4 linked regions of the Homo sapiens genome follow. The protein of the gene in region 2 purifies or fractionates together with the protein of the main gene of each other region. This does not show direct contact. Each region holds a gene or a part of one and is shown on either strand. Other genes may lie near its edges. The genes, in order: USP12, DMWD, WDR6 and GAK.

Region 1 (7,030 bases), on a different chromosome or scaffold from region 2:
GTTTTGGTGACCTTAGTGTTTTGAGCAGGAAATCAACTTCTTTTTTCTTCCTTCTGCTGCAAAATCTACATAATGAGTTTCAGACTCCTTACACGTATGTTCAAGCAGTTTTCTGCTTTTTTTTGGAGCCATTTCAATATGAGGGAAATTTTGTAAGCTAGTCTCTCATCATCTTTAAAATATGGCTCCACACATATTTTTGCTTGACAATTCCATGGGTAGTTGGTTTCTTTGTGGTAGCCAGCACTTCTCCTCTGGGAGGATCTTTGGCAAATAGGATTCATATTCTTCATGTGTTATCTTATTAAACATATTGTATCTGCTATTATTGAGATATTTTCTCTTTTCTGCATTTGGACTCCTCCCCTTGTGTAATTTCTAAAAGCACATTTTCCCTAACCATCGGGCCATGTTCATTCTCTTTCCTCCTCCTAATCTTACCTGACTGCCATTTATTAATAGTGCACTGACACTCATTTTATGCTCAGAAAATTCTTCTTTTGCATCTACCATCCATTGGAAATTCTCAAAGGATACCTTGTTGTTTTGTAAAGATTTCTTTTCAGTAACTCTATGTGGGTTTAATAAAAGGTCTGATGTTTCATAGTTGAATTATATTTTATGTATAATTTTATATCCTGACTTCTTAAGTATTTTCTTATGTCACCTAGAAACTTTCATCAGCATTGTTTTATTTAAGTTGTACAACACTCGGTTATGTTTGAATTCTAATTTATTTCCACATTTCCTGTTGCTGAATAGTTGGGATTTTTTACAATGTAAAAGAACTCTAATAGGAGATTATTCTCATAAGGGATGTTTTTGAGATTATACATTTAATTGTATTTCCAGAAATAGGATTACTGAGACAAAGGCCATAAAGGCTCCTAATTTATATTGGTGGATTGCTTTCTAGGAGTGACTAGGTGTTTACCTTTACTTTGGCTAATGTTTCCAAAAGGCCAAGTTCATTCACTAGTAAGTAATTTAGGAATAATAAGCTATCCACCATATTTAAGAAGTGTAGAATGCAGATTTAGTATAATGTTATAAAATGATTTTTTTTTTCACTTATTAGAGGCAGTGGCTTACCATATATCACTTCTTTAAATTGTGAGGAGTATTTTGCTTCACCAGACCCATTTAAAATTCAGTTCTGCAGCATTTGGCATCTATCATATGTCAGGCATGTTGCTAGATAGTGGGGAAATAAAAATGAAGGGAATGCTTTCTAGCTGCCAAGAGTTCAGGGCCTAGAAGAAAAGAACCATAATCACCTAAAATTGTTACCATGTAATAAGCTTGACATATATAAAGTGAACCTGTAAGGTGCTGATGGAGGATTGAAGAGAGCAGGTGTATTTGTGCCAGAGGGTGTGACATTTGAGCTGAGCCATTAAAAGAAGAATAGATTTTTAGGTGAAGTAGGAGTACAAAGGCACTCTCAGGGAGAAATGGCATTTAAAGGCATAATAAAGATTGTTTAGAACATGAAGAACAGCCTGTGTTTCACAGTTAAAAACTTAACTCCTAAGTTTCCAGGTTATTTTACTCCCTTTCTAGGATATACATTGTCATTTTTCTTAATATGGAGTTATTTCTTGTCTCTGACAAGCACCTTGATTGGTCTTTAGTGCTTTTATTGTTTTAGTCTCCTATTGTCAGTCTGTACCTGCATCATATAGATTGATAGAAAAAATAGATTTCAGTCTACCCAAGTCCAAAGGAATTGTCAGTTTCAAGAAACTTGTTTTCCCTCTACCACTCTTTTTTTTTTTTTTTTTTGAGACGGAGCCTTGCTCTGTCACCCAGGCTGGAGTGCAGTGGCGTGATCTCAGCTCACTGCAACCTCCGCCTCCTGGGTTCAAGCGATTCTCCTGCCCCAGCTTCCCGAGTAGCTGGGACTATGGGCGCCTGCCACTATGCCCGGCTATTTTTTGTATTTTTAGTAGAGACAGGGTTTCACCATGTTAGCCAGGCTGGTCTTGAACTCATGACCTCAGGTGATCCACCTGCCTCGGCCTCCCAAAGTGTTGGGATTACAGGCGTGAGCCACCGCGCCTGGCCTTCCCTCTACCACTCTTGAGCACCCCGTGCATTTAGCCTTATTATAAGAGACGTGTGTTTGAAAAATACAGATTCCTTAACCAAGGACTAACGCCATTCCATCTGTTTTGGAGCCATATTGAGTGCTGTGTCAAATTATGTGGTGTGACAATGATGGGTAGGGTGGGGTCATATTAAGATGTTCAGAATGTTGTTTTGTCAGTATAAAAATAATTGATAGAAATGTGCAAAACTGGGCATTGCTGGGCTATTAAAACTGACCATTGTCTATCTGTTCATTGGATATCGTAAAGTTTGATAATTCAAGGACATGGTGGATATCTTTTATGAAATTTTGTTTTCATTTTTATTTTTAATAGGATGAAAGTTAAAAAACTGCCCATGATTCTAGCTCTACACCTGAAGAGATTTAAATATATGGATCAACTTCATCGATATACAAAACTCTCTTACCGGGTAGTTTTTCCTTTAGAACTTCGTCTGTTTAACACTTCAGGTGATGCCACCAATCCAGACAGAATGTACGACCTTGTTGCTGTTGTGGTTCACTGTGGAAGGTAATTGCAACTCCGGGGACATAGTAGTGGAATTCCTAGGTTAGAAGAGCAGGGTACATTCAAGATGTTCATGAATTATTCATATATAGAACTTTTAGAAATTCTGTATTCTCTCAAGATAATTTTATTTCAAAATGGAGTTTTAGCTTTATGTTTTATCATTTCTTAAAAATTTTATATGTTAAAATATATTGTTTTTATTTTTATTATTTATTACTCTACAAGTACTATATCTGATTTCCTAGAACTTTGAGATCTGTTAGTTTTTCTTTTCCTTTTTTGGGGTGTGTGTATAGAGGGTTGTTGGTTAAAATAAATCACTTCTGAGTTTAATTGCGTATGTTCAGCATATCAATGGTTGTAAAAAGCATTTTAAAATGGCATTGGAAATAATCTTCAAAGATTCATTTTTTGATTTTACCTGTGTGTGTATTTATCATTTCTTATTAGCCAATTTTGCTTTCTGTCTTCTTCTCATCTTCTTTTCCAACATGGTATACACATCTTCTCTGTATGAACGTACATACCTATAATTGGCCTTATTAAATACCTCAGAAAATTCTCAAACTGCAAGAGCATCACATAATCAAAACTTGTATTTGGAACATAACTGTCTTCATTGACTGCTTAGAATTTCCTTTAATAATTTTAAAGCAGGCACTCATCATTTTCCCCTTGGTTTTGGGAAACTTGTACTAACAGCATGTTTTATCCAAATAAAAAAAGTTACAGCTTTCTCATCTTCAGCCCTCCTCCCAGCTCTCTGATTAGAATTTTTTTTTTTTCTTTTTGAGATGGAGTCTTGCTCTGTGGCCCAGGCTGGAGTGCAGTGGCGCCATCTCGGCTCAGTGCAAGCTCCGCCTCCCGGGTTCACGCCATTCTCCTGCCTCTGCCTCCCGAGTAGCTGAGACTACAGGCACCCACCACCACGCCCGGCTAATTTTTTGTATTTTTAGTAGAGACGGGGTTTCACCATGTTAGCCAGGATGGTCTTAATCTCCTGACCTCGTGATCTGCCCGCCTCGGCCTCCCAAAGTGCTGGGATTACACGCGTGAGCCACCGCGCCCGGCCTCTGATGAGAATTTTTAAGGACAATCTGGAGGGAGCAAATGCTCTTTAATAATCGTCTTCTTCCTCCATTGCCTGGGTCAGCCTTGGGTCCCGTCTTTTATCCTCAGCAAGAATCTTTCTTCTACTTCTAAATTAAGAGTGATCACATCTTAAAGGAGTGAAGCAGTGTCAAGATTACTTAAAGAACCTTGGTGTAGTGATTCAGACCGGGTTTTCAGAGTGAGAGAAACTTGGATCTCAGTACCATTTCTGCCAATTGTGGGCAGTGTAACGTTATGCATAGCTTCCTGAAAAGCCTTCAGTTTTCTCTTCTAGAAAATGTAAATAATACTAATTACCACATTGCTTTGTTAGGATTCAAAGGGAGATGTAAATCGCTTAGCTACTGCTACTGTTCTATTAACAAAAATGTAATATTACCTTCTCACATCTTAGCTTTATAATATTTACTTTCTCACACCGATTAGCCTCTTCAAATTTAGTGACAGTCCTACTCTACTTAAATCATGCTAGATTTTTAGAATTGCTCTACTCACAATATACTGAGCTGAGATGCCTGACTCATTGGGGAGGGGTCCCCTCCCCACTCTCCCCTTTTAAAATTAACCCAACTCTTTCCCCAGCCTTAAATCCTTAAGTCTCTTGACCCTTTCCCTTTTTAACCTTTTCTTTGGCCTCACTTGCTTCTCCCAACTTGAACTCCACAGTCAGTTATTTAAAGCATGTTCTCACAAGCACTGTAAAATCCTCTTGCCAGCTGTCTGAATCCCTACTGTCAGAATTGTTGCAGAAAATTGCAGAGAGATGTTTATTGACTTTCCTCACAGCCCTGGTGGTCTGCCTTCACTGGGAACTCTCTCCTGATGGAGTTCTGCACAGCAGGTCTTTGGTATCCCGCCCCCACCCCAGGGTCTTACTCTTTCTCCTGTCTCACTCTCATTGCCTCATGCCTTCCTGCCCCTCCGCTCTGGAAGTCTTCCTTGACGCTCTTCTGCCCAGCCTCAGTCTCCATGTGGTGCTGCTCCATTGTCTTCACATAAATACTAGACGTGCATTGCTAGCCCTGTCTTAGTGCTTTATGTACTCTCTTAGGATGTATGTCTACTTCCCTTATGAGAACAGGTGCTTTTTAAAACAGAAAATAATTTGCTCACTAATAAAAGACTAATCATATTTTAGAATCTTTTTCCATTGTGTATTTTATTTATCAGACTTATTTGTAGATTTGCTTCATATGAAAGTGTGGAGGGTGTGCGCAGCCTCATTATCAGCATGTCAGTTCCAGTTCAGCTTGCTCCTTCTCTGTCCCCGGTGCCCAGCCTAGAAGAGACTTCTAGCAAATGTTTGTTGACTTAAGTATTACCCTTCAAGCCCATGTCAAAACTGGGCACCATTTCGTGATTTCCCATCCCTCTCTCCCTTCTACCTCCTGTCTTGCTGGATGAGGTCTCTCCTGTGGCTCTACTTTTATATCATATTCTTCCTTGGATTATGTTTTTGGAGTAGTTATCTATTGTACTGAAGGGGTATTTGGGCAAGCAGTTGTTGGTATCTCTTTAATCTCCACAGCAATCAATAGTTATTTGCATACCTTACGCATTTGTATCTACTCAACTGAGTGTGTTTAATGTCCAGAAATCAGATGCCTAAGAAACAACTTCCTTAGGTGGAAGTTCAGCCCTTCATCTCTCATTTCATTTTTAGTTTATGAAATTAACTTTTGTCTACTGTTCCTCAAACTAGTTCTTTGCCAAAGGAAAAAGCCGCCTAACTTTTTTCAATTTACCAGTCCTTACCCCACCCACCTCCTTTCCTTCCACCCTGTGTTCTGCAACCTTTCTTTGATTTTTCTTTATTTCACCTTTTATAATTTTGTTTTCATTTCTGACCCTCTCCCCATAACACACAAGACCCTTTAGATGAGCCTAAATAAATACAGAAATAGACTTAAAGCATTAAATGCTTTTTTAAGAAAAAGTTTTGATGTGTCATCCTCCATAGTTAAAAAAAAAAAAGTATTTTTGTTGGTGTCATTCTGTCAAAGATATTTATCTCACCTACAGGATCAAATGATCTGAGAAACATAAGATATTATAGTAGGTGGCTTATTCTAATATCTGGTCACTACTTTTAAAATAGTGTTCACCATAAAGAATAATTTGTGTTGAAAAGGATTTTAACTTCTGTATTAATTATAGAATTACAATTTAATAAATATAATTATATGAGCCTTTATAATGAACCATACTTAAACTGGAAGAGGTTAAAACCTTTGTCATATCCTTTTATAAAGAAAAGGAATTATGCTTCTTTTATTTTTATGTATATCTACATTTATATATTCCAGATTTGTTTGAAATGAGATGCAGGGGCAATCATAGTCATAGTTATAATGGTATTAAGAATTAGGTACTTAATAATGACTTACCATTGAGCAAAGGTCATTTGCTTTTAAAGACATTTTATGAAGTTCAGGCTTGATTTTGGAACCAAGGATTTGATATCCTTGCCTGTTTCAAGCATCATATTGGATCTTTCCTCAAGAAAAAAACCATTACCAAGGGAGTGAGACTTAGAAATAATTCTATATGCATTGTTTTATAGTCCAACTCAGCATGTTCTGCTGTGATCCCCTCCCTTATAAAATGATAGAAAAATATGTCTTTTATTATAGAAGCAAAATTGAAAATTATTACAAAGACAGTAAAAAATTTCAGTAATATAGCTGTATGTGAAAAGAATACTGATATATCTCTTAGAGTACTAATTATTTGATTTTAAAATTGATGACCAGTTCAACTCAGTGTAGCTTTATCTCTTTTGGCAAGAATAGGTAAGGGGTATAAAAAAGAAGCAGTTCTTTTTTACTGCTATTTATCTGTTTCTGTTTCTTTATAAAACAAAATTTAGAGCATGAAAGAGTAATATTAATAAATATATTGAATTAACTTCTTCTTCGTTTGTTTTAGTGGTCCCAATCGAGGCCATTATATTGCAATAGTTAAGAGTCATGATTTTTGGTTGTTGTTTGATGACGACATTGTAGAAGTAAGTAGTTTCTTAATTTCTTATTTTTGAAAGTTGTATGCATATGTTGCTTTTCACTTTTTTCTCATAGTTTTTCATTTATATATGACTGGTGATGATATGAGACAAATGTCTGGGTCTATAGATTGTAGTCTAATTCCTACTTCTTACTCTGCAACGTCCAAGCCCAGCAGTTGAGTGGTCACCTAACCTTTACACACCTAGAATAAAACAAGGGAGGCCAGGTGCGGTGGCTCACGCCTGTAATCCCAGCACTTGGGGAGGCTGAGGCGGGCGGATCACCTGA
Region 2 (7,885 bases):
AGATGTGGTTTCACCAGGGTGGTCTCGAGCCCCTGACCTCAGTTGATCCTCCTACCTCGGCCTCCTAAAGTGCTGGGATTACAGGCCTGAACCACCGCACCTGGCAGGGAGTTTTGTCTAGTTTGTTTACTGCTGTGTCCCCAGCACCTAGACAATTTTATTTATGTCCCACATGATATGTTGGACATAAATAAAGTGTCACAATATAAATAAATTGATATCCAACATAAAATTATGTCTCACATAAATAAAATATGAGCCACATATATAATTTAATTTTTTTTGTTATTTTTAGTTACTTATTTCTTTTTTTTTTTTTTGAGACAGAGTCTCACTCTGTCACCCAGGCTGGAGTGCAGTGGCGCGATCTTGGCTCACTGCAAGCTCCGCCTCCCAGGGTTCACGCCATTCTCCTGCCTCAGCCTCCCCAGCAGCTGGGACTACAGGCGCCTGCCACCACGCCCCACTGATTTTGTTTTTGTATTTTTAGTAGAGACGGGGTTTCACCGTGTTAGCTAGGCTGGTCTCGATCTCCTGACCTTGTGATCCGCCCGCCTCGGCCTCCCAAAGTGCTGGGATTGCAGGCGTGAGCCACTGCGTCCAGCCTAGTTACTTATTTCTTGATTTATTTTGAGATACGTTCTCACTCTGTCACTCAGGCTGGAGTGCAGTGGCATGATCACAACTTACTGCAGCCTCAAACTCCTGGGCTCCGGCAATCCTCCCCCCTCAGCCTCCCCAGTAGCTGGAACCACAGGTACGTGCTACTGCAACTGGCTAATTTTTAAACTTTGGGAGGTGGAGGCGGCAGATCACTTGATGTCAGGAGTTCAAGACCAGCCTGGCCAACATGATGAAACCCCCTCTCTACTAAAAATACAAAAATTAGGCCAGGCATGGTGGCTCATGCCTGTGATCCCAGCACTTTGGGAGGCTGAGGCAGGCAGATCACTTGAGGTCAGGAGTTTGAGACCAGCCTGGCTAACATGGTGAAACCCCGTCTCTACTAAAAATATAAAAATTAGCTGGGCGAGGTGGTGTGTGCCTGTAGTCCCAGCTACTTGGGAAGCTGAGGTGGGAGAATCACTTGAACCCAGGAGGCAGATTTTGCAGTGAACCCAGGAGGTGGAGTTTGCATCCAGCCTGGGTAATACAGAGGAACCCAGTGAGCACATTTCACCCTGCCATCCACAACTTTGCAGTCATGCTATGCACATGCTGGGTCCTACCCTTAAAGAAAGTCAAGGCTGGCCAGGTGCGGTGGCTCACGTCTGTAATCCCAGCACTTTGGGAGGCCGAGGCGGGCAGATCATGAGGTCAGGAGTTCCAGACCACACTGGCCAACATGGTGAAACCCCATCTCTACCAAAAATACAAAAATTAGCTGGGCGTAGTGACGCGTGCCTGTAGTCCCAGCTACATGGGAGGCTGAGGCAGGAGAATCGCTTGAACCTGGGAGGCAGAGGTTGCAGTAAGTCGAGATCACACCACTGCACTAGGCAACAGAGTAAGACTCCATCTCAAAAAAAAAAAAAAAAAAGTCAAGTCTGGGGCCTTTGAGGGAGAATTTCACAGTGTCTCACTGCTTCTCCAGAAAGTTTGAGAACATCTACATCGGCTGGGGTCACAAGTACAGCCCCGAGAGCTTCAACCCGGCCCTGCCAGCCCCCATTCAACAAGAGTACCCCAGTGGCCCAGAGATCATGGAGATGAGTGACCCCACAGTGGAAGAGGAGCAGGCTCTGAAAGCAGCCCAGGAACAAGCCCTGGGAGCCACAGAGGAGGAGGAGGAGGGCGAGGAGGAGGAGGAGGGCGAGGAGACAGATGACTGAGGCCCACCCTCTAGCCACTTTCCCCAAGCAGGTAGATAGCAAATTTCCCCTTAGAGGTAGTTAGCATGGATTATATTTTCACTATGTGCTTCCTGTCCCCAGAGGGCAGGGATAGAAAAGGAAGGCAACTGCTTCAAATAAAATTCCTCCACGGCATTATGGATGAGCCATTCATTCATTTGTTCACCACCTCTGTTGACATGGACTCCAAGCCAGGGCTGTTGGGCCCTGCAGAGAGCACAGACATTGCCTGGCAGAGTCTCTCCCACCTGTTTGGTTTTTGTTGTTGTTGTTTGAGACAGGGTCTCATTCTGTCACCCAGGTTAGAGTACAGTGGCACAATCTCAGCTCCCTGCAGCCTTGACCTCCTGGGCTCAAGCAGTCCTCCCATCTCAGCCTCCGGAGTAGCTGAGACCGCAGGTGCACATCACCACATACACTAATTTTTGTATTTTTTGTAGAGACAGGGTCCTGAGTAACTAGGACTGCAGGCACAGCCCACCATGCCCAGCTAAATTTTTTCAATTTTTCAGAGTCTCACTATGAGATGGGGTTTATGTTGCCCAAGCTGGTCTTGAACTCCTGGCATCAAGCGATCTGCCTGTCTTGGCCTCCCAAAGTGTTAGGATACAGCTGTGAGCCACCGCGACCAGCCCCACCTGTTTTATTTATTCATTTACCTAGCCATCAAACCATTATTGAAATACCTCCTGTCAGCCCACCCCTGTGCTGGGGACACAGACAGCTGCAGTCCTGCCTTCCTGGACCTCACAACACTATAGGGAGAGAGACTCATTTCCAGACAGTGACAGCCCAAATGGGGAAGCCCAGAGGACTGACAGAGCTCCCGAGCCAACTCTTAAAGGGTCAAGAAAAGAATGGGGAAAGGCATTCCAAGAATAGGGAACAGAATGTGCAAAGACCCAAGGACAAGAGAGAGTGTGATATGTTGGGGTAGTTTTTCAAGCCTCATTTTAGGTGGTGGATAGTGTGAGGAGTTAGTGGTGAGATATGAGATTGAAAAGAGGTTGGCAGGGGCCAGATCACTTGGGGCTTAACTTTCCCCTGAGAGCACTAGGGAGCTACAGATGGGTTTTGAGCAGGGGAGGGCCCTGATCATATTCATGCTTTAGAAAGACCTCTCTAGGCCTAGTGCAGTGGGTCACACATGTAATCCCAGCACTTAGGGAGGCCAAGGTTGGCGGATCACCTGAGGTCAGGAGTTTGAGACCAGCATGCCCAACATGGTGAAACCCCGTCTCTACTAAAACTACAAAAAAGTAGCTGGGTGTGGTGGCAGGTGCCTGTAATCCCAGCCACTCAGGAGGCTAAGGCAGGAGAATCACTTGAACCCAGGAGGCAGAGGTTGCAGTGAGCCAAAATCGTCCCATTGCACTCCAGCCCACGTGACAAGAGCGAGACTCTGTCTCAAAAAAAAAAAAAAAAAAAAAAAAAGCCGGGTGCAGTGGCTCATGCCTGTACTCCCAGCACTTTGGGAGGCCGAGGTGGGTGGATCACCTGAGGTCAGGAGTTCGAGACCAGACTGGCCAACATGGTGAAACCCCGTCTCTGAGCCGAGATGGAGCCATTGCACTCCAGCCTGGGTGACAGGGTGAGACTGTCTCAAAAAAAACAAAAACAAAAACAAAATAAAACCTCTCTACATGCCAAGTGAAAGGTGGAAGTGGGGGTGAGACAGAAATCTGGGAGACCAAGAGACACGGTTGATGTGGGGGTGGGGGAAGGGCTTGGGTAGAGGAGAAGCTTGGATCAGGGAGAACAAGGAACTGAGAAAGAGGAATTCCACGTGGTCGAATGCAAAAGACTTGGAGGCTGTAAGCGGGGGCAGAGTGAAGATAAATGGTACACATCTAGGAAGACACCCAGGTCTGTGGCCTGGTTGACTGAGTGGACGGCAGAGCTAGCCCTAAGGTGGGGATGCAAGAGAGGTGGAGGATTTGGTGTAAGACGTCAATTTCATTGTAGGATTCTTTTTTCTTTCTTTTTTTTTTTTTTTTAGAGAGACTGAGTCTGACTCTGTCCCCCAGGCTTTAGTGCAGTGATGTGAATTCATAGCAGTCTTGATCTCCTGGGCTCAAACGATCCTCCCACCTCAGCCTCCCAAAGTGCTGGGATTCTCGGATTCCAGGCATGAGCCACCATGCCCGAACCATTGTAGGATTTTTTTTTTTAAGTGTGAGATGCCCTTGGGACACTCTAGGGAGAAATCGTAGAGGCCATTGACTACATGAGACTAGAAAGATCTATGATGGGGCTGGGTGGCTTCAGCAGACATGGGGAGCACTGGCTATGAGTAGGAGCTGTTGGGATCAGGGGGAGACTTTGGGTTACGAGTGGATCACTGGGACACTGGGGCACCGTGGGGATCAATACAATTTGGGAATCAGAGGTAGGTTTTGGAGGACAAGTGAGGTTGTTGAAAATAAGAAAATCATGGAAATATACATTGGAGGTTGGTGGAAAATATGAAGGATGTTTGGAGTTAGCATTAATCAATAGTGGGTCAGAGGAAGTCCTCTGAGTTGTGTGGGGACACAGGGATTTGGTGGGTCACCAAGGGTGGGGAAGAATGGTAGCAGATGCTGTGGTCATTCAGGGATTTGAATATGTCAGTGGGAAACACTGGAGGTCAGGGGAGTGTATATTGGGCGTCTAAGGAGAGACCAGGGTCACTTGGGGTTGGCTGTGACTTCATGGGAAGGCTGGACTATGGATGAGGGCTTCTTTGTCGTGGGGGAAAAAAAAAAAAAAATCCCTCCGTTGCTAGGCAAACGTTCCCAGGGCGCGGTTGCTAAGGACTTGAGCTTTCTAACTGGCCACGCCTCTTTCCATTGCGGGCTCCGCCCCCGCAGCCAACCACAAGTCGGTCACAGGCTCAAAGGCCGCGCCCACCTTCTCGCCCCGCCCACAGTCCCAGCACCGTTACCCGAGCGACCGCGGGGATTCGTCCCGCCTCCGGATCTGGGTGCCAATCGAAGAGGCGTTGCCCGGGCGACGACCCCACCTTTTCCGGCGCGGGCCAGCGGCTTCCGGGAGGGGGCCCGGCTGCGGGCGGCAGTCCGGCAGTGGCGGGGCCCGGGGGGCGCCCAAGATGGCGGCGGGCGGCGCGGAGGGCGGCTCGGGCCCCGGCGCCGCCATGGGGGACTGCGCGGAGATTAAGTCGCAATTCCGCACGCGCGAGGGTTTCTACAAGCTACTCCCGGGCGACGGCGCCGCTCGCAGGTCGGGTCCGGCTTCCGCCCAGACTCCGGTGCCGCCTCAGCCACCGCAGCCCCCGCCCGGCCCTGCCTCCGCCTCCGGTCCCGGCGCTGCAGGCCCCGCGTCGTCCCCGCCGCCCGCAGGCCCCGGACCCGGGCCCGCCCTGCCCGCCGTGCGCCTCAGCCTCGTGCGCCTCGGGGAGCCGGACAGCGCCGGGGCCGGGGAGCCGCCCGCCACGCCCGCGGGGCTGGGCTCGGGGGGAGACCGCGTCTGCTTCAACTTGGGCCGTGAGCTCTATTTCTACCCAGGCTGCTGTCGTCGTGGGAGCCAACGGGTGAGCGGCCTGCATCGTGGGGCCCTGGGTGCTGAAAGGATGGAGGTTCCAGAGAACTGATAGGAGGGTCCCCGAATTGATATGGGGCCCTGAGATAGGCATTCTAAATGTGATGGACGTTGTAGGGCGACAGCATTGGAGGGAGTACAGGATTCTGAAATGTGATGAGAGGCCCGCGGGGTGCTGGGCAGGCATCTTGGAGGTGATGGGGGAAATCCCCTTTACCCCCGTTATGCGTAGGAGTTCTGGGATGGTGACTATTGGACATGATGGGGTATCTGAGATGAGGTGGGATCCCCCGGGTTCTGGGGTGGCAGGCATTCTGCAGGTAATGGGGAATCATGAGGTGATGCAAGCCCAGAGGTGATGGAGAACCCAGTATTGCAGCCTGGAGGTGTGGGAGAGGGGTCTTGAGATTGAGCCCAGGAATGAGGAGAAGTCTAGAAGTGATGGGGGCCTTGAAGGTGATAGGGGATCCAGAAGCTGAATGGGATTCTAGAGAAAATTGGGGTCTGGAAGTCATGAGGGTCCTGGAGGAGATGAGCGTCCGGAAGCTGATGGGAGCTCTCAAGGGAATGAGAGGCCCTGGCAGGGGAATCTGCAGGTGTGATTCAGGACATCTCTAAAGCGATGTGGTGAGAACCCTGGCCGTTTATGGTGATCCCAGAAATGATGGGGATCCTTCGGAGCCCCTAGGTAATAAATGGGCCTAAAATGTGGGAGACCGTGAGGTTTGACGGGTCCCAGAACTGTGGCGGTTTAGGGACTACAAAGTGAAGAGAATGCTAGGATGTTAGGCTTTAGAGTCCTGGAAATTTGGGTGACCTCAAGGTTTGGGGGTCTTGGAATAGTGTGGTACTAGGTCCCAAGGGAGTTGCTGAGGTTATAGGATGGAGTGGTGAGGCTAAAAGGAATCGGAGCTTAGGAACTGTGTGGACCCAGAACCCTGATTATGTGGACAAGGGTGTCTCTGAATTAGAGGTGACCCAACTTTGGGGAGGCACTGTGGTCAAGGGGGATCCTTACCATCTTTTTTGCTACTCTTGTCTGTGATTTGGGTCCCCTTCCCGTCTGTGGTTGCCCCGTCCTTCGCAATCCACCTACTCACCTCCCCACTTCCCTCTGGGTTCTAACCCTGCTTCCTCTTAGTGGTTTCCCCCAACCTCAACATCCTCTTCCTTCTCCTCAGTGGCATACACCATTAACTCCTTTTCTCCCACCCCTCAAGTCCATTGACCTCAACAAGCCAATTGACAAGCGGATCTACAAGGGCACCCAGCCCACCTGCCACGATTTCAACCAGTTCACTGCTGCCACCGAGACCATCTCGCTGCTGGTGGGCTTCTCAGCGGGTCAAGTGCAGTACCTGGATCTCATCAAAAAGGACACCAGCAAGCTGTTCAATGAGGAGGTGATTGCAGCCCCCAGAGCCCCCAACTTCTCTGCCTTCTCACCTACCCACTATATGCCATTAGGATGCAGCTGCCTGCGGAACAGTGTAGGCCTGAGAGGGGCAGGACCAGGGAGAGATGGAGAATGGGGTGACAGCAGCTAATGACAGCTGCCTTTACTGTACCCAGGCCCTGTGCTGTGTTACCCTTGTGCTGAATACTTTACTCCTTGGGTTTTCTTTCTTTCTTTCTTTCTTTTATTTATTTATTTTGAGATGGAGTCTCACCCTGTCACCCAGGCTGGAGTGCAGTGGCGCGATCTCTGCTCACTGCAAGATCCACCTCCCGGGTTCATGCCATTCTCCTGCCTCAGCCTCCTGAGTAGCTGGGACTTCAGGCACCTGCTGCCACGCCCGCCTAATTTATTGTAGTTTTAGTGGAGATGGGGTTTCACCGTGTTAGTCAGGATGGTCTCGATCTCCTGACCTCGTGATCTGCCCACCTCGGCCTCCCAAAGTGGTGGGATTACAGGTGTGAGCCACCATGCCCGGTTCTTTTTTTTTTTTTTAATTGTAATTGTAATTTTTATTGTTTTTAATTTTTTTTTTCTTTTTAAGGCGGAGTCTCACTCTGTCGCCCAGGCTGGAGTGCAGTGGTACAATCTCGGGTCACTGCAACCTCCGCCTCCCAGGTTCAAGCAATTCTCCTGCCTCAGCCTCCTGAGTAGCTGGGACTACAGGTGCGCACTATCATACCTGGCTAATTTTTTTTTTTGAGATGGAGTCTCGCTCTGTCGCCCAGGCTGGAGTGCAGTGGCGCGATCTCGGCTCACTGCAACCTCTGCCTCCCGGGTTCACGCCATTCTTCTGTCTCAGCCTCCCCAGCAGCTGGGACTACAGGCGCCCAGCACCACGCCCAGCTAATTTTTTTGTATTTTTAGTAGAGACGGGATTTCACCGTGTTAGTCAGGATAGTCTCGATCTCCTGACCTCGTGATCTGCCCGCCTCGGCCTCCCAAAGTGCTGGAATTAAAGGCGTGAGCCACCACACCCGGCCAATTTTTGTATTTTTGGTAGAGATGGGGTTTCACCATGTTGGCCAGGCTGGTC
Region 3 (7,342 bases), on a different chromosome or scaffold from region 2:
GTCATGCCGAAGCGCCTAAAATGGTAGTGCTGCTACCTGTGCTAACTGCTGGGGAGGGGTGGGCAGGGAAGCTGTCATGCAAGTGGTGCCCCCTCTGGTAATAACTCTCAGGAGGTTTCTGAGGTGTGGTCATCACCCTCATGCCCAAATTCTGGACCAAGAGAGGAAGATACAGCAGTTAGAAAGGACTTGGAACAGTGGCTTTGCGGCTGGTGAACCAGAGTGAAGAATCTGGCCGTGACCTGTGGCTGGATGGCTGCCACACTGCTATAGGCCCCAGAACAGAGGTGGTGACAGTCTCACAGCCCTTGAATGTCCCCCACCCTCAGAGGAATCTGGGCCAAAGAGTGGAAGGTGATGTCCTTGGGTCAGCCAGAATAACATGGAGCAAAGATACCAACTACTCTTCCAGAACCCCAAGAGGGTAGAACCCCTGCTTAATGGTTTGAGCAGGGACAGTGGAGAATGTTCTCATGAGAGGGGGTGGCCTGACTTTCGTTGCTAAGGTGGGCTGGTAACGCAGTAGGCAGGGCTGGCGAAGTAGGTTCCACCCAGGATGAAACCTGGGGTCATGAGGAACTCCCCGGGGGCTGGCCCTGCTTGCACCCTGGCGTATGTATGTAAGGCCCTGGATGAGGCCCAGCACTGCCTGCTCTCTCCTCACCCTCCACAGGCCGGAGAGTGGCCACCACTCTATATAGCCAGGCTGGAAGGCCAGGGTCCTGGCCATATGGCTCAAGCTTCCTTTGGAGAACCTTCTCTGGCCACTCTAATAGGGGGTGGGCCTCTTTCTTCTTAGGGCCAAATTAGGGCTTAAACTGAGAAAAGGAACTGCTCTGGGTCTTCCTGTAAGGCCTGATGTGACAGAAACCAGGTTCATCTGACCCAAAAGTCCAGGTGGGGGACAAGTGTACAAGGCCCCTCAGTGCCTGAGGTCAGGGGCTGCTGCTGCCTTTGGGGTAGGTAGGGAAGTGCAGCCTGCCACTGTTGCCTCCCAATATGGGCTTGGTGGGCATTGATGGTGGGTGCCCTGTGCAGGAGTGCTGAGTCTGCAGGAGTTCTCCAACATGGACCTTCGGGACTTCCACAAGTACATGAGGAGCCACAAGGCAGAGTCCAGTGAGCTGGTGCGGAACAGCCACCATACCTGGCTCTACCAGGGTGAGGGTGCCCACCACATCATGCGTGCCATCCGCCAGAGGTGAGCACCTGAAGCTGTTCTCACTGGAGCAGGGGGAGAAGACTGGGCAGGGCCTCCACAGAAGTCCTTGTCTGGGGCCAAGAGGACAGAATGGATTAACCCATTTGGGATTAAGTTCCATTTGTTAGACCAGGATTGGGACCCACTGAAAGACAGGCAATTAACAAAGGCAAATTAGCCCTCCTTGCAGGCACACAATGGGCAACTGGGGTTAGATAGAGATTGAGCACTTCTTTCTGATTAGATAAATGACCTCTTATCTTTGACCCCTTATCTGACCCCGTCACAGCAGGAAAAGGGTTTTTAAATAAACAACTTTCTTCCAGGGAGGAGGACCTCAGGACTCCCCGCCCCCTTTATTTAGTGGAAATGTCAACATTTCCACATAGCAGGTGTCTCTGTCTTTGGCATCTGAGGGAGAAGGATCATCATGAGTAACCCCCTCCTGCTCTTACAGGGCCAGTCTGAGATGGCTTAAGGGACTTCCAGGGGAGGTGGGTAGGGGCAAAGCTTGTGGCAGGCCTAGGGTCCACCTTGGCCAGCTCCTTCAGATCACCACCTTGCCTGGGGCTGCCCAGCCAAATGCCTGCTGCCCACCAGGGTGCTGCGCCTCACTCGCCTGTCGCCTGAGATCGTGGAGCTCAGCGAGCCGCTGCAGGTTGTTCGATATGGTGAGGGGGGCCACTACCATGCCCACGTGGACAGTGGGCCTGTGTACCCAGAGACCATCTGCTCCCATACCAAGCTGGTAGCCAACGAGTCTGTACCCTTCGAGACCTCCTGCCGGCAAGTATCTCCCAACTGGGGGCTGCCTTCAATCCTCAGACCAGGAACACCCATGACACAGGCACAGCCCTGCACTGTGGGCGTGCCCCTTGGCATGGGGCCAGGAGATCACTGGGTTATCCCGGTTAGTGATGCCCTCACCTCTCCCCACAAGTTGTTTACCCAATGGCTGGAAAGGGGTGGCTACTGGTCATCGTGACCACTGGAGTCAACACAGACTGATGTACCCACAGACACCAAAACTTGCCCCCTGAGTTCTGAAGCAAGGGGCAAGGCTGGGCCCCTAGCTTGTCCTGCCCATTCCTCCAGGTGTTGATCTTGATTCCACTTAGAGAAGCTGAAGCTGTGCCTCCCTCCCCTGTCAAGCCAGTTCTTTCCTCTTCAGGTGGCTGTTCTGGCCCAGCCCCTTCCCATCCCCAAGGAGCCCTTCAGCGCGCCCTGTTGCTTCTGCTAGCCTACCTTTCCCTGCCAGGCCCTTGCTCAGGGCCATGGCATTTAACTAAGTGCACCTGTGATCTTGGCCAAAAAACCATTGCAACTCACAGTAAGAGACTGGGTTTCGGGGAAGGAGGGGCTAGGGACATTTTGGCACTGGCCTGCCCTATTGTCTCCCATCCTAGTCTGTCCTGGTCCCTGGCAACAGGAACCTGGGCAGCTTATCCTGCCCACAGGTAAGCCCCTGGGAGCATCCACAACTGGGGACCTGCTCAGTGCCCCCCCTGCCTTACAGCTACATGACAGTGCTGTTTTATTTGAACAACGTCACTGGTGGGGGCGAGACTGTTTTCCCTGTAGCAGATAACAGAACCTACGATGAAATGGTAAGGGTCAACTGGGCTATTACTCTTGTGGGCTGGCAGGGGCTTAGACAAGTGAAGTACACACCTCTCCAGGTCTAAGGATGTGGGCCCAAATTATTCCTTGGGCATATCTGGTTGGTTTCCCTTTGGTCACCCTTGGCTGGCCTGGCCATAGAGTGGGGACAGGTTGAACACCCCACCACCCTGCTGCCCACAGAGTCTGATTCAGGATGACGTGGACCTCCGTGACACACGGAGGCACTGTGACAAGGGAAACCTGCGTGTCAAGCCCCAACAGGGCACAGCAGTCTTCTGGTACAACTACCTGCCTGATGGGCAAGGTGAGGGCCTATGGCCAGGCCTGGGGGGGGTGCCCTGAGTACAGCTTCCCTTTACCCAGCCCCCGTCTGCCACAATGGAGGGCTGTTTCTGGCTGCTTTCCAAATAGTTTTCTGCTCCTGGTGCCTCCCAAAGGCCATCCTTAGTGACTTTAGCAGACTGCCCCAGGACCTGTACTGCTTATTGGGTTATATCCATCCCTATCATTCCCTGATGCCCCAGCCTTCCTACTCCCTGGGGCTTGGGACACATGTCCCTTGCTAACCCAGGATGGGAAGGGATATGGACAGGCCCAACAGCAAGAAAGCTGGTTTCAGAGGGCCAGTAGTGTTGACTATACATTAGTGGGCTGAGATGAGGAGCCTCCAAGGAAGCTTTAGGTCTGGGTGTTTGCTACACAAGGAATGCATAGCTGGACCCACCTTGGTCATGCTCTTGGTGCCTATGAGGCCAAGCTCTGGCCAGCCCAGCCTAGGATCTCACGTCACCCTCCTCTTCTAGGTTGGGTGGGTGACGTAGACGACTACTCGCTGCACGGGGGCTGCCTGGTCACGCGCGGCACCAAGTGGATTGCCAACAACTGGATTAATGTGGACCCCAGCCGAGCGCGGCAAGCGCTGTTCCAACAGGAGATGGCCCGCCTTGCCCGAGAAGGGGGCACCGACTCACAGCCCGAGTGGGCTCTGGACCGGGCCTACCGCGATGCGCGCGTGGAACTCTGAGGGAAGAGTTAGCCCCGGTTCCCAGCCGCGGGTCGCCAGTTGCCCAAGATCAGGGGTCCGGCTGTCCTTCTGTCCTGCTGCAGACTAAAGGTCTGGCCAATGTCTTGCCCCACCCCGCCAGCCGCGATACGGCGCAGTTCCTATATTCATGTTATTTATTGTGTACTGACTCCATCTGCCCCGTCAAATAAAAAACCACAAGGTTCGAGCCGCCGGGCCCGACAAACTCCGGGTCGGCGAAACAGAGTCCGCGATAGGTGCAGCGGGCTGGCAGCTGGGAGCGCCCCGCAAGCGTCACGTGAGGGGGCGAGGGGCGGGATGCCCCTCCGCGGGCCCCGCCAATGATGAGCTGGATTGCGTGGGACGAAGGGTCGTCATTGGACAACCGCCGCGGGCGCCCTGGTCTCTGCTACCTGTAGCTGAGGGCGCTGTTGATGGGCAGCGCGGCGCGCTGGGAAGGCTCGTTCTCGCGAGAGTTCAGCTCCCTTCTTAGCCGTGGCTGCCTCAGCACCTCGAGGATCGACATGGACGCTCTCGAGGACTACGTTTGGCCGCGGGCAACCTCGGAGCTTATACTCCTCCCAGTGACGGGTCTGGAGTGCGTGGGGGACCGGCTGTTGGCGGGTGAGGCTTGGCTTGAGGCACGCCTGGTGGAAAGGGGGAAAGAAACAGCGCCTCCCAGGGGCGGTGCCACAGGGACAAAAGGGGTGCCCTGAGGAGAAGGACGGGCAGCAGGTTGAGGCCGATCGGAGGTGGGAAGGGAGCCCCGGAGATGGCGGGGACGAGGGCCAACCTGAAGAGGGCGGGGCCCGAGAGACAAAGCTGATGTGGCCGCCGCGGCGCTTCATAAACTTCAGCCCGCGTGGAAAGGGCGGGTGGAACCGCGGGAGGGTGCAGGGGAACGCGGCCGCGCGGAGGCGGAGGCGGAGGCCCGGGAGCTGAGGGTTGAGGGGGTGTGCTCCCTTCTAGGAGATGGGCGGGGGCTTGGCCTCTCCGAAGGAGACGGGGCCGAGCTGGGGGGGGCGGAGGGAGGAGGAGGAGGAGGAGGCGGAGGCGGCCCCGGCCCCTCAGGGGGTGTGGCCTCTTGGGGAAGGCGGGGCCGGGAGAGGGCAAGGGTGTGGCCTCTCGAGGGCGGGATGAGTCTCTTCCCCCTAAGGTGGGGGTGAAGATCCTCTGAGGAGGGTGGCGTCGCGGAAAACGGCGGATAAGACCTTTCCGAGTAGGGGGCGGTGCCCGGGGAAGCAGGGGCTGAGACCCCCTCCTGAGATGGTTGAGGTCCAGGAAATCAGGTGTGGAGGTCCCTCCAAGGAGAACCGGGTCGCAAAGGACAGGCGAGGCCTGGGACCTGAGGTGTCAGAGTCCAGGCTGGTCTCGAACAGTCATTACATGAAGCCACTAATGACCCATGTTGGTGCTGCTGAGTTGTATAAGGGTCCTGAGGCAGGGCCTTGGCGGTCAGGCCTTGAGTGAGTTGCCACCAGTCCTAAGAGGGTGTGTGTATGGGGTGGGGATGATCCAGTTTTGATCTGGTGTGGGGGTTCTTGGAGCGCGGAGTTCCTACCGCGAGCTAAACTCCTAAGGCTCCTTGAGGGGGAACAACGAAGCAGAAACTCAAAGAACCACAAGAGTGAACTAGGAAAAGGGGTGAGTTCCTGGCAAGAGGGTAAGCATGCCAAAGGCCTTGAGGCTGGAAGAATCTGTCATTTTGGGGGAAGGAGGGAATTCTTGTGAAGTTAGAGCAGGAATGGAGTCTGGGAGGAAAGGAAGCTGGACAAGCGAGCAGAGGCCACATTGTTTCAGGCCTTGATCTGACTTTATCCCTAAGGGCAGTGGGGAGAACCTATTGAAGGGTTTTAAGGTGGGGAATAACTTGGGAAATGCAGTTTAAGAAGCTCTGCAAGTGAATTCACCTACTTCTGTGGCTTCCAAAGTGACTTTTATATAGCTACAATTCTGTGTGTGTGTGTTTTTTGTTTGTTTGTTTGTTTGTTTTTGAGACAGTCTTCCTCTGTCACCCAGGCTGGAGTGCAGTGGCACGGTCTCGGCTCCCTGCAACCTCCGCCTCCCAGGTTCAAGTGATTCTCCTGCCTCAGCCTCCGGAGTAGCTGGGATTACAGGTGCCCACCACCATGCCCAGCTAATTGTTGTATTTTTAGTAGAGATGGGGCCTCACCATGTTGGCCAGGCTGGTCTCAAACTCCTGACCTCAAGTGATTCGCCTGCCTCAGCCCCCCAAATTGCTGGAATTATAGGCATGAGCCACCATACCCGGCCTCTCTAGCCTCTTCCTGAGCTCTTCATTTCCTGTTCCATCCACCATACTCAATGCTCTTGCCCATCTCAGGGCAATCATACATGCTGTTTTCTCCACCAAGAAAGCTGCAAACCCTCCCATTGCTCCCCACCCCCCCCCCCCCGCCCCAACATTTCCCAGTCCCCCTCTTCCGCCTCCTTTCCTCTGGCTAACTGCTGCTTATCCTTGAATCCTAACTCTAAATATTGTGTCCTCAAGTTGGCCTCCCCTTACACTCACCCAGTCTTGTTAGATTAGACCAGGGTTTTCTCAATCTTGCCTCGATTGACCTTTTAGACCAGATAATTCTTTGTTGGAATGCTGTTTGTGCATTGTAGGATGTTTAGCATCATCCCTGGCCTTACTTGCCAGTAGCACAACCCCTGGAGACAGCCGTACGTGTCTCCAGCTATTGCTAGATGTCTCCTGTGGGGAAAGTTGCCCCCTGTGGAGAACCACTGGATTAGACTTTCTCATTTTACATCTTTTATTTTCTTTTTGCATTGTCAAAATCCTTCTCATTTTATTTTACTTTTTTTTTTTTTGAGACAGAGTCTTGCTCTATTGCTCAGGGTGGAGTGCAGTGGTGCAATCTCAGGTCACTGCAACTTCCACCTCTTGGGCTCAAGAGATCCTCTCACCTCAGCCTCCCAAGTAGCTGGGACTACAGGCATGCGCCATTATGCCCAGCTCATTTGTATAATTTTTTTAGAGGTGGAGTTTTGCCCTGTTGCCCAGGCTGGTCTCAAACTCCTGGGCTTAAGCGAGCCTCCTGCCTTCCAAAGTGCTGGGATTATCGGTGTGAGCCACTGTGCCAGGCCCCATCTCTATTTTTTTTTTAATTAAAAAAAAAAAGTGAGGTGAGGAGGAGGCTCTGAGTTTGAGAAATTTGTGGTTGAAGTGAACATCAAGCGTGACTGATGAGGCTGGGCGCGGTGGCTCACGCCTGTATTCCCAGCACTTTGGGAGGCCGAGGTGGGCGGATCATGAGGTCAGGAGATCGAGACCATCCTGGCTAACACAGTGAAACCCCGTCTCTACTAAAAATACAAAAAATTAGCCGGGCATGGTGGCGGATGCCTGTAGTCCCAGCTACTTGGGAGGCTGAGGCAGGAGGATGGCGTAAACCTGGGAGGCAGAGCTTGTAGTGAGCCAAGATCGCGCCACAGCACTCCAGCTTGGGCGGCAGAGTGAGACTTTG
Region 4 (3,570 bases), on a different chromosome or scaffold from region 2:
CTTGGCTCCTGGGGGTGACGTGGGGACACTGCCCCAACCCCCGTGGACAAGCCCTGGGTCTGCCTTGGCTCCTGGGGGTGGGGTGCTGCCTCCACAGCTGCCCTGTCCTGGTGTCTGCCCTCCATCCAGAGTGTTCCCGTCGCCCCAGCACCTGGCCTGTGCTCCAGCCCCTGGAGACCTTCACACGTGTGGGTGGAGCCGGCACCTCTGGACGGCCTCGAGTGATCGGTGTTCTATTTTGCAAGCGCATGTTTTCCAATATACGTGGTGCTCTGCGTTATAGAAACAGTAGTTGCCCCTCATGGACAACCAGATGCCGAGTTTCCGATCTCCATCTCCACAGGCTCACCAGCTGGATTCCCTCCTGGGGGCTTCATTCCCAAAACGGCCACCACGCCCAAAGGCAGCAGCTCCTGGCAGACAAGTCGGCCGCCAGCCCAGGGCGCCTCATGGCCCCCTCAGGCCAAGCCGCCCCCCAAAGCCTGCACACAGCCAAGGCCTAACTATGCCTCGAACTTCAGTGTGATCGGGGCGCGGGAGGAGCGGGGGGTCCGCGCACCCAGCTTTGGTGAGTCCCCCACTCTCTGTTGCTGTGGAGTTTGCAGAGACCTCCCTGAATTGGCTAAAGGTAGAACCTATGTTGTTTTCTTCATCTCAGAGCCCAGTCCTGGGACAGGCACGGCCAAGCCACTCAGAGAACGACGCGGTTTCCGATGTGTGTTCACTGGTCTCTCTCTGGGTCAGGCCTCTGGGTCCCTCTTGTTCCAGTGACACCTTCTTGACCTGTTTTTAACAAATGGCCTTTGCAACCCTGTCTTGTCTTCCCTCTTCTTTACTCTGGAGGCATCAGGATGGTAGCCCTGTTCCCGGGGGCAGCAGGTGGAATTGGGCCTGTGTGTCTCTGCAGAAAGTTTCTGTTCTTAACTGGGCTTTGTGGCTCACGCCTATAATCCCAGCACTTTGGGAGGCTGAGGCGGACAGATCGCTGGAGCCCAGGAGTTCAAGACCAGCTTGGGCAACAGTGATACCTCCTCTCTACAAAAAATGTAAAAATTAGCCAGGCATGGTGGCGCATGCCTGTGGTCCCAGCTACTTGGGAGGCTGAGGCAAGAGGATCGCTTGAGGCCGGGAGGCAAAGGCTGCAGAGAGCTGAGATCACGCCATTGCACTCTGGCCTGGGTGACAGAGTGGAGACCCTGTCTCAAACAAAAAAAAGTTTCTGTTCTTTTCTAGCTCAAAAGCCAAAAGTCTCTGAGAACGACTTTGAAGATCTGTTGTCCAATCAAGGCTTCTCCTCCAGGTCTGACAAGAAAGGGCCAAAGACCATTGCAGAGATGAGGAAGCAGGACCTGGCTAAAGACACGGACCCACTCAAGCTGAAGGTGGGTGGGTGGGCAGCTCTTCCTGGGAGCCCAGAGGCCTCAACCCATGGCCCCTGGAGCATCTGCTGTGCCTTATGGAGCCGGCGTCTCCAGACAGCAACCTTTCACCCCTGGAGCATCTGCTGTACCACATGGAGCCGGCGTCTCCAGACAGGGACCTGTCACTGCCGATGGGCCTGGCAGCCCTCAAGGACAGGGTGGCCTGAGGCCAGGGGGGCAGGGCAGAGTCAGGCCCCAGGCTGTGCTGCTCCCCACGTGCCCAGATGGCTCAGCGCTGGTGGGGGTGGGGTGGGCGGGCGTTACAGGAGTGAGTGCCCCGGGGTGTTTGCAGAGACTGTTGAGGGCAGGCGTCTCTTGGGGGCTGCTCTGGGTACTGAGCCTCCCAACCCAGGACGCTCACTGGGGGGTGAGGATGCAGCGGTCAGGCTGTCACTGTGCCGGCCCTGAGACACGCCCTGCTCTGTGGCTTGGCCGATGCCCAGCTCTGCAGGCCACATGCGCCTGTGACCTTGGGGTCCTTTCACAGGCACCAGGGACCATCCCCTTCTCCCTCGGAGTCTGGGGCCTGGGATGGGCCAAGGGGTTGCACCACCAGAACCAGGGTTTGTGTCCTCGGTGAACATCTGGCTGAGACGAGGGTCCCTCTGGCCCCAGGCCCTGAAACATGAAGACCACCTGGCCCTGTGTCGTCCGGAGTGGGCTCTATATAGTTGAGGGCAGGGCGTGCAGTGGGACAGTGTCTGTGAGCCGGGCTGAGCCCACCCCACGTGACCAGGCACTTCCTCAGCGTCGTGCCTCAGTTTCCGCGGTGCAGAGGAGGAGGGCAGGCAGGTGCCCAGGGCTCGGCAAGCTCCGTGTCTCCCGCAGCTCCTGGACTGGATTGAGGGCAAGGAGCGGAACATCCGGGCCCTGCTGTCCACGCTGCACACAGTGCTGTGGGACGGGGAGAGCCGCTGGACGCCCGTGGGCATGGCCGACCTGGTGGCTCCGGAGCAAGTGAAGAAGCACTATCGCCGCGCGGTGCTGGCTGTGCACCCCGACAAGGTGAGCAGAGCTGCCAGGCGGCCGCTTGAGGCCTTCAGGGGCGGGGCGGGGGGGGGGTCCTGCCCCGCCCGCCCCCGCATGCTTATAAGAGGCGCTTACACCGCCTGTCACCCATAGGCTGCGGGGCAGCCGTACGAGCAGCACGCCAAGATGATCTTCATGGAGCTGAATGACGCCTGGTCGGAGTTTGAGAACCAGGGCTCCCGGCCCCTCTTCTGAGGCCGCAGTGGTGGTGGCTGCGCACACAGCTCCACAGGTTGGGAGCCGTCGTGGGACCTGGGTCCCCACCGTGAGGACCCCGTGGGCGACAGCAGGTGTGGCCAGGGTGGGGCTCCGAGCCCCGGGTCACCGCCCGCCCAGCGTTCCAGGCACATGAAGAGAAAGCATTCCAAAGCCTCTGATTGTTGTTTCCTTTTTCTCCTCCCGAAGGAACAGCTGATTCATGCTCCTCCCGCAATTGTCACGTCTGTGATTTATTTGGTGTTTCGGGCGTGGCCTCTGGAGCCCCGGCACGTGGTGGGCCACGCTGCTGGCGCTCATGGGCCCTGGTGTTTGCACCGCACTTTGTAATCAGTCCCGTGGTTGTCTGTACAGAATTAAACTATTTTCCGATGACTGCTGTGTCTCCAGTGTGGATCCACTCGCCCAGGTGCCGTTCACCAGCTGGGGCACAAGGCTGTGCTTCCTCAGCAACCTTGCCGTGGTTGGATTGTTGCAGGGGCCGAGTGGAGAGGAGAAGCGGGTCCCGGGGCTGCAGCGGCTCTGGGCAGCTCTTCAGGGGGCCATAGAGCCCAGCCAGGGCAAGGCCAAGGGCGGGGGCCCCTGCAGTCCCCAGACCCCCTTCCTCCCCTCGGCCCCGGGACTCCTCTCTCCTCTCCACTTGGCCCCTGCCCCTGGGCCCTGGACCTAGGAGCAAGGGTGGGCTCCACACTGCCCCTGTGCCATCCCCGCAGGGCCAAGGTGGCCTCCGGGCTGTCGGGCTGGTGGAGGACCAGGGGCCCCTGGAAGGAGAAGGTGACCATGGTGAGCCCCCACCCCACAGCAGACTCGAGGAGGCCCTGAATCATAGCCCTGAACTCACCGCCAGGCTCTTCCTGTTTTCAGAGAATAATGACTGCACGTTTGCTATGCACCCGCCACTATT

The links.
Region 1: the proteins of DMWD (region 2) and USP12 purify together in Homo sapiens (affinity purification with mass spectrometry; 3 studies listed by BioGRID and IntAct, with this or other methods). This does not show direct contact.
Region 3: the proteins of DMWD (region 2) and WDR6 purify together in Homo sapiens (affinity purification with mass spectrometry; 2 studies listed by BioGRID and IntAct, with this or other methods). This does not show direct contact.
Region 4: the proteins of DMWD (region 2) and GAK purify together in Homo sapiens (affinity purification with mass spectrometry; 3 studies listed by BioGRID and IntAct, with this or other methods). This does not show direct contact.

The regions. Positions count from the first base shown.
Region 1 is NC_000013.11:27,070,785-27,077,814, reverse strand, and holds part of USP12 (ubiquitin carboxyl-terminal hydrolase 12), read left to right. Parts: intron 1-2,426; coding exon 2,427-2,624; intron 2,625-6,665; coding exon 6,666-6,744; intron 6,745-7,030. UniProt on the Homo sapiens protein: Deubiquitinating enzyme that plays various roles in the regulation of the immune response and inflammation.
Region 2 is NC_000019.10:45,789,816-45,797,700, reverse strand, and holds the start of DMWD (dystrophia myotonica WD repeat-containing protein), read left to right. Parts: upstream 1-4,855; 5' UTR 4,856-4,944; coding exon 4,945-5,385; intron 5,386-6,613; coding exon 6,614-6,796; intron 6,797-7,885. Other genes in the region: RSPH6A (radial spoke head protein 6 homolog A), read left to right, coding at 1,595-1,832. UniProt on the Homo sapiens protein: Regulator of the deubiquitinating USP12/DMWD/WDR48 complex. Functions as a cofactor that promotes USP12 enzymatic activity.
Region 3 is NC_000003.12:49,003,060-49,010,401, forward strand, and holds the start of WDR6 (tRNA (34-2'-O)-methyltransferase regulator WDR6), read left to right. Parts: upstream 1-4,331; 5' UTR 4,332-4,372; coding exon 4,373-4,472; intron 4,473-4,545; exon of another isoform or gene 4,546-4,600; intron 4,601-7,342. Other genes in the region: P4HTM (transmembrane prolyl 4-hydroxylase), read left to right, coding at 1,039-1,201, 1,802-2,111, 2,659-2,808, 3,005-3,128, 3,628-3,848. UniProt on the Homo sapiens protein: Together with methyltransferase FTSJ1, methylates the 2'-O-ribose of nucleotides at position 34 of the tRNA anticodon loop of substrate tRNAs. Required for the correct positioning of the substrate tRNA for methylation.
Region 4 is NC_000004.12:848,748-852,317, reverse strand, and holds the end of GAK (cyclin-G-associated kinase), read left to right. Parts: intron 1-343; coding exon 344-568; coding exon of another isoform or gene 569-771; exon of another isoform or gene 772-1,009; intron 1,010-1,233; coding exon 1,234-1,382; intron 1,383-2,249; coding exon 2,250-2,426; intron 2,427-2,543; coding exon 2,544-2,645; 3' UTR 2,646-3,041; downstream 3,042-3,570. UniProt on the Homo sapiens protein: Associates with cyclin G and CDK5. Seems to act as an auxilin homolog that is involved in the uncoating of clathrin-coated vesicles by Hsc70 in non-neuronal cells. Expression oscillates slightly during the cell cycle, peaking at G1.